2 linked regions of the Homo sapiens genome follow. The protein of the gene in region 1 interacts with the protein of each later gene in a biochemical or structural test. Each region holds a gene or a part of one and is shown on either strand. Other genes may lie near its edges.

What was found.
Region 2: the proteins of NPPB (region 1) and NPR1 form a complex in vitro, tested with the Homo sapiens proteins (2 studies listed by BioGRID).

The regions. Positions count from the first base shown.
Region 1 is NC_000001.11:11,856,963-11,863,342, reverse strand, and holds NPPB (natriuretic peptides B preproprotein), read left to right. Parts: upstream 1-4,397; 5' UTR 4,398-4,509; coding exon 4,510-4,641; intron 4,642-4,873; coding exon 4,874-5,129; intron 5,130-5,671; coding exon 5,672-5,688; 3' UTR 5,689-5,879; downstream 5,880-6,380.
Region 2 is NC_000001.11:153,688,654-153,694,492, forward strand, and holds the end of NPR1 (atrial natriuretic peptide receptor 1 precursor), read left to right. Parts: intron 1-299; coding exon 300-446; intron 447-534; coding exon 535-658; intron 659-799; coding exon 800-868; intron 869-1,051; exon of another isoform or gene 1,052-1,140; intron 1,141-1,152; coding exon 1,153-1,327; intron 1,328-1,630; coding exon 1,631-1,729; intron 1,730-4,452; coding exon 4,453-4,544; intron 4,545-4,698; coding exon 4,699-4,761; 3' UTR 4,762-5,339; downstream 5,340-5,839. UniProt on the Homo sapiens protein: Receptor for the atrial natriuretic peptide NPPA/ANP and the brain natriuretic peptide NPPB/BNP which are potent vasoactive hormones playing a key role in cardiovascular homeostasis.

The DNA of each region.
Region 1 (6,380 bases):
CATGGTGAAACCCCATCTCTACTAAAAATAAAAAATTAGTTGGGTGTGGTGGCACGTGCCTCTAGTCCCAGCTACTCAGGAGGCTGAGACAGGAGAATCACTTGAACCCAGGAGGCGGAGGTTGCAGTGAGCTGAGATCGCACCACTGCATTCCAGCCTGGGTGAAAGAGGAAGACTGCATCTCAAAAAAATTAAAAAAAAAAAAAAAGAATCCCTGGAACAGAGCCACACCGTGAGTCAGCCACGGGCAGAGACGAGCCTGCCTCCTGCCTCCTGGGTCAGTGCTCCTCTGTTTCCTCCTTTGCTTCCCCCAGGTGCCCAGTGCTCTCATACCATCCACTTTGGCTGCCCAGGACTAGACTGGAGATTGAGGCCAGAGGGAAGCTACAGAAAAATCTTGCAGCTGGAGTCCTACTCTCTGACTAGTCAAACCTTGTATTCTGCACAGCTTCTTCCTTCTGCAGAGAGCATAGGGGTGGTAGCTGATCCATTAACCAGCCCTTCTAGCCTCTGCTTGTGCATCTGCTCTGCCCAGAGTGCCCTCCCCATCTTCCATCTTCCTTCTTGTGGCTAACTCATTCTTATCCTTCAAAGCCTTAGCCCAGCCCCACCTTCTCCAACAAACTCCCTTCTCGACTGCGCACTCCTGCTGTGCTCACAGAGCATCCAGGACTCACTGCCACTGTATCTGTCACTCACTGTGGCAGCCTGGGGAGCCTGTGATTGTGCCCACCTTTCCCCCTGCACTGTAAGCTTCTCAATGGCAGGGACTTTCTTGTCCGTTATGTATCCCCACCTTCCAGCAGAAATATTAGATTTTAACCTGCACAGTCTCATTTTATGCTCACAACAACCCTATGAGGTAGCCATGAGAAAACAAGGAGAGAGAGGAAGCAACTTGCCCAACACACAAAGGTAGCAAGAAGTTGATGTGAAATTGAGCCCAGACTGTGATTTCAGTCTTGGGTCTGGGCTACTGTGACCCCAGGGTCTCGGTGAAAGTTTGTTGAATGACTTAAGGGTCTTATTTCTTTCTGTGTGGCCAGATTAAGCACTTAGAGTTGGATGGTGGTGGGGAACCAATACTTCTACCATAACAACATTTGCTGAGGGCTTACTATGGGAGAGACACTATGCTTGGCATTTGACATATACTCTATTAATTTCCCATTGCTGCTGAAACAAAGTCTCACAAGCTTGTTGGCTTAAAAGAACATGATTTTATTTTCTTACAGTTCCAGACATCAGAAGTCTGAAATCTGTTTCACTGGGCTAAAACTAAGGTATTGGCAGGCCCATATTCCTTCTGGAAGCTCTAGGGAAAAATCCATTTCTTTGCCCTTTCCAACTTCTAGAGGCTGATTACATTCCTTGGCTCATGGCCCCTTCCTCTATCTTCAAAGCCAGCAGTGTAGTCTCTTCTCTCCTCTCTGACCTGTTCCCATCCTTACATTTTGTCCCTCTGACCTTGATCCTCTGGCTTCCCTCTTATAAGGACCCTTGTGATGACATTGAGCCTTCCTGAATAATCCAGGAGAATCTCTCCACCTTGAGGTCCTTAACTTAACCACACCTGCAAAGTCCTTTTTACCATGTAAAGTAGTATATTCGCAGATTCTGGGGATTAGAATATGGACATCTTTTGGGGACTATTATTCAGCTTACCACAGACATCATCAAATTTAATCCTTGTACATTAATGCTCCAACAGAGGTGTTATGATTAGCTTCATTAAATAGACTTGGAAAGCACATAGCATATGACAGGCCCTCGATAAATGTTGATGGGGCTGATCTGGTGTGAGAGTTAGTTGACAACATATCCTCCTCCCTGGACAGCAGGCCTTGGAGGATGTGTCTAGTTCTGTGTCTTCCTCAAGTCTTCTTCCACAGTCCCCTCCACTGGGGACAGATAGAAACTCTGTCAGAGTGTATGACACTTAGACACTTAATTGTCTCACTTGGGGTCACTTTGTCTCCCCAGTGAGATCACAATCTCCTTCAGTGTAAAGACCAACTCTCATGTACTACTAATTATTTGGCCCTTTATACAGTGCCACGGGCTTTTGCAGATATTATTTTTTTCCTTTTAGTCCTTGCAAGGACTGTCCATTTTGCCGAAGAGCAAAGTGAGGCTCTGGCGAGATGCAGAGTCAGTTTTTGATGGTGCTGGTTGATGAATCCTGCCTTGCTCTGAACCCTTTATCTCATGGTACTCAGCATGAGGGGCTTTCTGCACCCTCAGCAGCCTCTCGCCCACTGACTCCCCTCTGCACTTGGCTGAATTTTCTTACCTCTTTAGCTTCCTCTTAGCCTTTTGATACTCTTACTGTGGCATGCTCATGTGCACGCACACACACACACACACACACACACACACACACAAAACTACCCCAGCCCCCCAGAACATTTCCAGCACTGGTGTCTTTACACAGCCCTTACCCACCCACCTCCATTTATATTTCATCTGCAAAATGCTCATCTGAGCCACTTCCCATTCTTTCTCCTGCACACACAGTCACCACTAGAATTGCACATCCCCCACAGCACAGCTCCCAGAGCCTTCATAGATGACACGGGATTCACCTAAGCTTGCTTTTTGTAGAAACACCTTGTGATCACCCTGGCAGTGATTATGAGCTTCAGGTCTGGAATCAGACTGCTGGCTAGACTAATCAGACTGGTTAGAATCCAGGATTTATCATGTGTCAATTGTGTGACTTTTGGAAAGTAGATTAATTCATGAACACCATTTCCTCCTCTGAAGTGAGGAATAATAACCGTGCTTTTCTCACCTCAGGGGCAGATGCTATTTTTTAGGCAAGATCTGCTTAGAGGTCCCAGTTTCTTATTGCTGCCCTTCTCTGCTGTAACTCTTCTCCCCTCATAGACAGCTCCACTCCTCCAGCCTGCTGCTTGTTGACACCAATTCTCTGGAAGGGGAGTGACATCAGTCATATATGCTTTAGGGGGGTATTTAAGCTGCTATGACTCTTCTCAGGGGCATTTCTCTCCAAAGTCTCACTTCTAATCACCAGGCCACCTGCTAATGATAATTAGATCATGGGTGGTCAGATGAAGGAGGCACTGGGAGAGGGGAAATCCCCATATCTCTGGTATCCCAGCAAATAGATAACCATCATTCCAGCCATCCTTTTGTTTTCTTTCTTTCTTTCTTTCTTTCTTTCCTTCTTTCTTTCTTTCTTTTTTCGCTCTCTGTCAACCAGGCTGGAGTGCAGTGGCGTGATCTCAGCTCACTGCAACCTCCACCTCCTGGGTTCAAGTGATTCTCCTTCCTCAGCCTCCCGAGTAGCTGGGACTACAGGCGCCTGCCACCATGCCCAGCTAATTTTTGGTAATTTTAGTAGAGACGGGGTTTCACCGTGGTCTCGATCTCCTGACCTCGTGATCCGACCGCCTCGGCCTCTCAAAGTGCTGGGATTACAGGCGTGAACCACCATGCCCAGCCTATCCTTTTGTTTTCCATCCTGTGTTGGCTTGGTGGGGGAGAGGAGGTGTTGACACGTGGAGGACACACATATAAGGCATTCTTGGGTGACTTCGTCATCACTGGACCCTATCTCTCAAAATTCCAGCGAAATCTGCTCTTCCCTTTAAGGAGTGAAAGAAGGGTCAGCATTCCAGAAGTTCCTGGTCATACCCAGGCTTTTAATGAATTGCCACTGGGGAATCAGCATCCCGTTGCTGTAAGGACTATAAGATGGCGGATTGTGAGAGCATAGGGAAAGGTCTCGGAGGTCTCTTGTCCTTGCTCCACGCAGGTCTTTCTGGCCTGAAAATCCCGTTGAAGAGAGCAGCTCTTGAGAGTTTGCTCCAAGTTCCCTCGGGGTGATCAGCACCACGGACAGCGGCCAGGGCGCCCCCGAGGACCCGCAGGCAGGCAGGGTGCACAGCGGCGAGCAGGTGCTGCGCTACGTGCGGGCCAGGGAACTCGCGCGGGGAGGGGAGAGGCGCCGCGGGTGGCGGGGTCTTGGCCGGGGCTGTTTTCGCTGTGAGTCACCCCGTGCTCCCCGCGCTCACGTCGGTCCTCGGAAAGCCGGGGTCCTCCCTGCCTTTTCCAGCAACGGTGGGGTGGGGAGGCAGGAAGAAAGCGCCAACCTAGGACACCTGGACATTTGCAGGAAAGGAAGAAGCGGGAGACGGGGACTTGTCTGTGTCTCCAGCGCGTTCCTGCCCCCCGGCCCGACCCGGCCCATTTCTATACAAGGTCGGCTCTGCCCGGTCTCCACCTCCCACGTCGCAGGCGCGGAGGGGCTCATTCCCGGGCCCTGATCTCAGAGGCCCGGAATGTGGCTGATAAATCAGAGATAACCCTGCATGGCAGGGCAGGCCCGACACTCAGCTCCAGGATAAAAGGCCACGGTGTCCCGAGGAGCCAGGAGGAGCACCCCGCAGGCTGAGGGCAGGTGGGAAGCAAACCCGGACGCATCGCAGCAGCAGCAGCAGCAGCAGAAGCAGCAGCAGCAGCCTCCGCAGTCCCTCCAGAGACATGGATCCCCAGACAGCACCTTCCCGGGCGCTCCTGCTCCTGCTCTTCTTGCATCTGGCTTTCCTGGGAGGTCGTTCCCACCCGCTGGGCAGCCCCGGTTCAGCCTCGGACTTGGAAACGTCCGGGTTACAGGTGAGAGCGGAGGGCAGCTCAGGGGGATTGGACAGCAGCAATGAAAGGGTCCTCACCTGCTGTCCCAAGAGGCCCTCATCTTTCCTTTGGAATTAGTGATAAAGGAATCAGAAAATGGAGAGACTGGGTGCCCTGACCCTGTACCCAAGGCAGTCGGTTCACTTGGGTGCCATGAAGGGCTGGTGAGCCCAGGGGTGGGTCCCTGAGGCTTGGACGCCCCCATTCATTGCAGGAGCAGCGCAACCATTTGCAGGGCAAACTGTCGGAGCTGCAGGTGGAGCAGACATCCCTGGAGCCCCTCCAGGAGAGCCCCCGTCCCACAGGTGTCTGGAAGTCCCGGGAGGTAGCCACCGAGGGCATCCGTGGGCACCGCAAAATGGTCCTCTACACCCTGCGGGCACCACGAAGCCCCAAGATGGTGCAAGGGTCTGGCTGCTTTGGGAGGAAGATGGACCGGATCAGCTCCTCCAGTGGCCTGGGCTGCAAAGGTAAGCACCCCCTGCCACCCCGGCCGCCTTCCCCCATTCCAGTGTGTGACACTGTTAGAGTCACTTTGGGGTTTGTTGTCTCTGGGAACCACACTCTTTGAGAAAAGGTCACCTGGACATCGCTTCCTCTTGTTAACAGCCTTCAGGGCCAAGGGGTGCCTTTGTGGAATTAGTAAATGTGGGCTTATTTCATTACCATGCCCACAATACCTTCTCCCCACCTCCTACTTCTTATCAAAGGGGCAGAATCTCCTTTGGGGGTCTGTTTATCATTTGGCAGCCCCCCAGTGGTGCAGAAAGAGAACCAAACATTTCCTCCTGGTTTCCTCTAAACTGTCTATAGTCTCAAAGGCAGAGAGCAGGATCACCAGAGCAATGATAATCCCCAATTTACAGATGAGGAAACTGAGGCTCAGAGAGTTGCATTAAGCCTCAAACGTCTGATGACTAACAGGGTGGTGGGTGGCACACGATGAGGTAAGCTCAGCCCCTGCCTCCATCTCCCACCCTAACCATCATCACCCTCTCTCTTTCCCTGACAGTGCTGAGGCGGCATTAAGAGGAAGTCCTGGCTGCAGACACCTGCTTCTGATTCCACAAGGGGCTTTTTCCTCAACCCTGTGGCCGCCTTTGAAGTGACTCATTTTTTTAATGTATTTATGTATTTATTTGATTGTTTTATATAAGATGGTTTCTTACCTTTGAGCACAAAATTTCCACGGTGAAATAAAGTCAACATTATAAGCTTTATCTTTTGAAACTGATTTGTCTTGGCGCATTAAAAATAATCCCTCATTTCAAAGAAACCAACCCAACTAAAACCACAAAGCCCTGTGATCTCAAGGCATCTTCATGGTGGGATGAGGATGTGGCCTCAGAGGTAGCAGGCTTTCTTTTCTTTCAGAGTTTTTAATGCTCTGAAATGTTATTGAATATCTCAAGCACTTGAGGCACTTGGGAGAAACTGCTTTTCAAAGCAGGGCAGGATACGTGTGCAACCTGAGGGCACGTATCCAGCCGTTTTCTCCACTCGTCCTTGCTCTGCCTGGAATTCCACCATTAAAGCACTCTCCCTGGGGATTATTGCTTTCAGGTCTCAGCTAAAATGTCAACGACTGGGGGCAGTGTGTGTGGGTGTGGCTCATCTACATTCCCATACCGGGGTGAGCCCTCCATCCTGCCCCAAATATCAGCTTTGAAACTCCAATTCCTGGGGTCATCCTGCAAAGGAGCCTTCAAAACTCCAACCCA
Region 2 (5,839 bases), about 140 Mb from region 1:
CGCAATTGACCCTTGTCATTCTCCACCTCCTTTACCTCCTTCTAACTCACTGGGTTCAACAAAGATGAACAAAATGTCCATATGTCTGAAGCTTCATACTTGACCTTGGGGTCTCAGAAAAGAATTGAACTTTCTTCCTTCTGTTTTCCCCTGCTCCCCGGTATCCTGCTATGCCCTCAACCCTGAGCGTCTCTAGAGACCTCACTGCAGTCTGGAGGGGGAAGTGCCTAGGGGCGGGCGCTCACGGTAGGCTGTGCTGCTCCTCTCTTACCACCCCCACCGCCACCCTCTGCCCCCAGGGAGAACAGCAGCAACATCCTGGACAACCTGCTGTCCCGCATGGAGCAGTACGCGAACAATCTGGAGGAACTGGTGGAGGAGCGGACCCAGGCATACCTGGAGGAGAAGCGCAAGGCTGAGGCCCTGCTCTACCAGATCCTGCCTCAGTGAGTGCCTGAGTCTGGGGACCCCCCCCAACACAAAGCCCCTGTCCCGACCCCCAACTCTGATCCTGCACCTGCCCTGACCCCTTAGCTCAGTGGCTGAGCAGCTGAAGCGTGGGGAGACGGTGCAGGCCGAAGCCTTTGACAGTGTTACCATCTACTTCAGTGACATTGTGGGTTTCACAGCGCTGTCGGCGGAGAGCACACCCATGCAGGTAGGCCAGGGTTCAGCCACAGGTGCCAGGCAAGCTCAGCATCTGGATCCCACCAGACCTGCCTTCTGGTTCTGCTTTACCCACCTGACCCCAGGTGGGGTCCCCTACTTCCTGTCTCTCTTAGCTTCTCTTCCCTTCCAGGTGGTGACCCTGCTCAATGACCTGTACACTTGCTTTGATGCTGTCATAGACAACTTTGATGTGTACAAGGTGAGGGTGGGAGTGGGGATGGGAAGGGACAGACAGACATGGACAAGGTCAGAAAAAGATGAGGGGTAGGCAGAATGATGTGGAGTCTTAAGAGAGGAGATCGGGGACACGGGCAGAGACAGTGACACAGGGAGACCCGGGAACAGGCAGAGAACCCATGTGGGATGGGGGATGAGCAAAGACAGATGAGGGTACAGAATGACAGACGCTGCACCCGGTGTGACGGTGTGGCCGGCCGCACAGTTGCAGCCGTCAAGTCCTGCACCCCCTCGCCACTCCCACAGGTGGAGACAATTGGCGATGCCTACATGGTGGTGTCAGGGCTCCCTGTGCGGAACGGGCGGCTACACGCCTGCGAGGTAGCCCGCATGGCCCTGGCACTGCTGGATGCTGTGCGCTCCTTCCGAATCCGCCACCGGCCCCAGGAGCAGCTGCGCTTGCGCATTGGCATCCACACAGGTAAGGCCACTGAAGGTGCAGGCGGGCATCCAGAGGCCAAGGCTTCGCAAGGGAAACTTGTCCCCTGGCCCAGCCCCTCGCCCTTTCATCTCTCTCTCTCTCTCTCTCTCTCTCTCTCTCTCTCTCTGTCTCTCTCTCTCTCTCTCTCTCTCTCTCTCTCTCACACACACACACACACACACACACAGAGCTGGGACCTCAGATCCTGCCTCCTGCCTGTCTTGGATTGTCCACCTACCTCCCTTAACACCCCTCCCTCCCTCACTCGCTGATGGGCTCTGCTCCTTCCCTTGCTCCTCCCAGGACCTGTGTGTGCTGGAGTGGTGGGACTGAAGATGCCCCGTTACTGTCTCTTTGGGGATACAGTCAACACAGCCTCAAGAATGGAGTCTAATGGGGAAGGTACAGTGCCCCCTCCTAGAGGGAATGGGGAGGGCAGGGTGGCTGAGGGAAATGCCATCCTGGGGCAGCCTGTGCCTGCACAGCCCGTTTCAGCTCCTAGCCCTTTCGCCTCCCAAGTTCCCCTTCTCATAATATTAAGAGTTCAACCTGGGCTCATCAACTTGACTGTAACCAGAGACTCAGGTTCCTGCTGCCCCTCTTGTCAAACGATGTAAAAGTATTTCCGGGCCAGTGCTGGAGAGTTCCCAGCAGGAATCTGATTTTAAGACCCTCTGTGGGCCGGGCGTGGTGACTCACACCTGTAATCCCAGCACTTTGGGAAGCTGAGGCAGGCGGATCACCTGAGGTCGGGGGTTCGAGACCAGCCTGACCAACATGATGAAATCCCGTCTCTACTAAAAATACAAAAAACTAGCCAGGTGTGATGGCAGGCTCCTGTAATCCCAGCTACTTGGGAGGCTGAGGCAGAAGAATTGCTTGAACCCGGGAGGCAGAGGTTGCGATGAGCCAAGATTACACCACGCACCCCAGCTTGGGCAATAAGAGTTAAACTCTGTCTCAAAAAAAAAAAAAAAAAAAAAAAAAAAGACCCTCTGCTCCACCTTTGATGTGGTAAAGATGGCTTCAGAGCCAGCATAAGTGAGGCTGTGAATCTCAGCTCCACAGCTGGCTGTGTGTCAGTTTGCTATACCTCTCTGAGCCATGGTTTTCCTCATCTGTAAAAAGAGGGAAAAAATCTATCTCACAGGAATTATGTGAGAAACCCATTAAAAATGTCTACCACATAATTGTCATTTAACTTTTCCAAGCCTTAGCGGATTATCTGTAAAATGATGTCTATCTCAGGATTGCAAGAAGCCTAGCACAAACCCTGGTACCCAGCAGGCACCTAATAAATTCTTACTCCTACCCGCCCCTTGCTCTTGCCTCCTGTTTATCTTCTATCCTTCTGCTGTATTCGACACAATTCAATGCAGTAAACATTTATTGAGTGACTACTGAGTGCCAGGCCCTGGGATAGTAACATGGCCCAGATCCAGAGTTAGCTGAGAAATTCATGTGGACCCCATCTAAACCTTATGGTGAAAGAAAGGCTGCTTGGGAGCCAGTCCTGGGAGCCCAGAGGGATCTAGTTCGGCAAATATTCCCTGGGCACTATTTTGGGGGCTGTCAGAGTACAGCCCCTTGTTGAGGGTCCAGTCCTCAAGGAGCACATTCCCAGAAATTGTTCAACATTCTGGGCGCTGGGGGTGCTTGTAATCCCAGCACTTTGGGAGGCCGAGGTGGGCAGATCACTTGAGGCCAGGAGTTGGAGACTAGCCTGGCCAACATGGTGAACCTCCTGTCTCTACTAAAAATACAAAAAATTAGCTGGGCGTGGTGGCACGTGCCCGTAATCCCAGCTACTCAGGAGGCTGAGACATGAAAATCACTTGAACCCAGGAGGTGGATGTTGCAGTGAGCCGAGACTGCACCCCTGGGCAACAGAGCGAGACTCTGTCTCAAAAAAAAAAAAGAGAGAAAGAAAGAAAAGAAAAGAAAGAAACTGTTAAACACAACAAGGCCACTGTGATTGATGCAAACCCCAGAAGTAGGGACATGAGTTCAGACAGTGGTCAAAGAGAGGGTGTGGCAATATTGGGCCCCACTCCATCACTGACCTCCTCAGCCACTTGGGCAGATCACCCTGGGCCTCAGTTCCTCGGCCACAAAATGAGGGTATAGCATGAAATCATGAAAGCAACAATTTACATAGTGCTTCCTAGGTAGCACATTCCGTTTGAATACTTTATGGATGTTAAATTTAATCCTCACAACAAGGTTTTGAGATGGGTACTGACACTATCAGCATTTTACAGATTAGGAAAATGAAGCAGAGAGAATTTATTTTACATACCTAAGCAAGTATCCAAGCTGAGGTTCATACTGAGGCAGTGCAGGATCCAAAGTGCCAGCTCCTAACCACCATGCTGTGTAGAGCCGGGTGACACTCCAGAGAGTGCTGTCCAACAGGATGTTCCATAGTCATGAAAATGTTCTGTATTCTGTGCTGTCCAATACAGTAGCCTCTAGGCACATATGGCTACTTATCACTGGAAATGTGACGGGTGCAACTGAGGCCCTGATTTTTTTTTTTTTTTTTGGAGACAGAGTTTCGCTCTGTCGCCCAGCCTGGATGGAGTGCAGTGGTGCAATCTCGGCTCACTGCAACCTCCGCCTCCCAGGTTCAAGCGATTCTCCTGCCTCAGCCTCCCAAGTAGCTGGAATTACAGGTGAGTGCCACCACACACAGCTAATTTTTGTATTTTTAGTAGAGACGGGGTTTCGCCATATTGGCCAGGATGGTCTCGAACTCCTGGCCTCAAGTGATCCTCCTGCCTCAGCCTCCCAAAGTGCTGGGATTACAGGTGTGAGCCACAGCACCCAGCCTGAATTTTTAACTGTATTTAGTTTAAATTAATTTAAGTTGAAACAGGCACATGTGATTAGTGGCTACTGTATTGGATTACACAGCTCCAGAGTTCTAAATGAGAGGCTAATGTGGTCACGCACTACATTCAGGGGGTGGGGCCCCTCTGAGCTAGAGGGCTTCCTGGCCCAAAAGAGGGAGAGAGGGTACCTGTCCACCTGTCCACCCCCACAGTCCCTGGTCTCTTTTGCCTCTACTTTCCTGCTCTCCTCTCTCACATTGCTCACCTTCCCTTCTCCCCTGTCCTACCCAGCCCTGAAGATCCACTTGTCTTCTGAGACCAAGGCTGTCCTGGAGGAGTTTGGTGGTTTCGAGCTGGAGCTTCGAGGGGATGTAGAAATGAAGGTAGAGGGAGAAGCCTCTGCCCTCCCCACCTTTTGGGGTCCTAGAGGGAGTTACCCTTCTCAAGCAGCCAATGCCACTCCCATCCCTAAGGCTCTCATCTGACTGGGGAAAGGGCATGTGCCACTCCCCAGCCCATCCTCTTTTTTCCCTCCAGGGCAAAGGCAAGGTTCGGACCTACTGGCTCCTTGGGGAGAGGGGGAGTAGCACCCGAGGCTGACCTGCCTCCTCTCCTATCCCTCCACACCTCCCTACCCTGTGCCAGAAGCAACAGAGGTGCCAGGCCTCAGCCTCACCCACAGCAGCCCCATCGCCAAAGGATGGAAGTAATTTGAATAGCTCAGGTGTGCTGACCCCAGTGAAGACACCAGATAGGACCTCTGAGAGGGGACTGGCATGGGGGGATCTCAGAGCTTACAGGCTGAGCCAAGCCCACGGCCATGCACAGGGACACTCACACAGGCACACGCACCTGCTCTCCACCTGGACTCAGGCCGGGCTGGGCTGTGGATTCCTGATCCCCTCCCCTCCCCATGCTCTCCTCCCTCAGCCTTGCTACCCTGTGACTTACTGGGAGGAGAAAGAGTCACCTGAAGGGGAACATGAAAAGAGACTAGGTGAAGAGAGGGCAGGGGAGCCCACATCTGGGGCTGGCCCACAATACCTGCTCCCCCGACCCCCTCCACCCAGCAGTAGACACAGTGCACAGGGGAGAAGAGGGGTGGCGCAGAAGGGTTGGGGGCCTGTATGCCTTGCTTCTACCATGAGCAGAGACAATTAAAATCTTTATTCCAGTGACAGTGTCTCTTCTTGAGGGAGAGAGGGTTGCCAGAAAACAGTCAGTTCTCCACTCTCTACTTCAAATAAGACTCACTTCTTGTTCTACAAGGGTCTAGAAGGAAAAGTAAAAAAAAAAGACTCTCGATTCTTAAGCTGGGAATGCAGGCTCTGAGAGTAGTAACAGCCTATGAATTGCCCAGCAGTGCTGAAACTGGTTTAAGGACCCATTTACATCCTTAAGAATTATTATTATTGGCCGGGCACAGGGGCTCATGCCTGTAATCCCAGCACTTTGGGAGGCTGAGGTGGATGGATCACCTGAGGTCAAGAGTTCAAAACCAGCCTGGCCAACATGGTGAAACCCAGTCTCTACTAAAAATACAAAAATTAGCTGGGTATGGTGGCACGCGCCTGTAATCCCAGCTACTCAGGAGACTGAGGCAGGAGAATCTCTTTTTTTTTTTTTTTTTTTGAGACGGAGTCTCGCTCCTTCGCCCAGGCTGGAGTGCAGTGGTGCC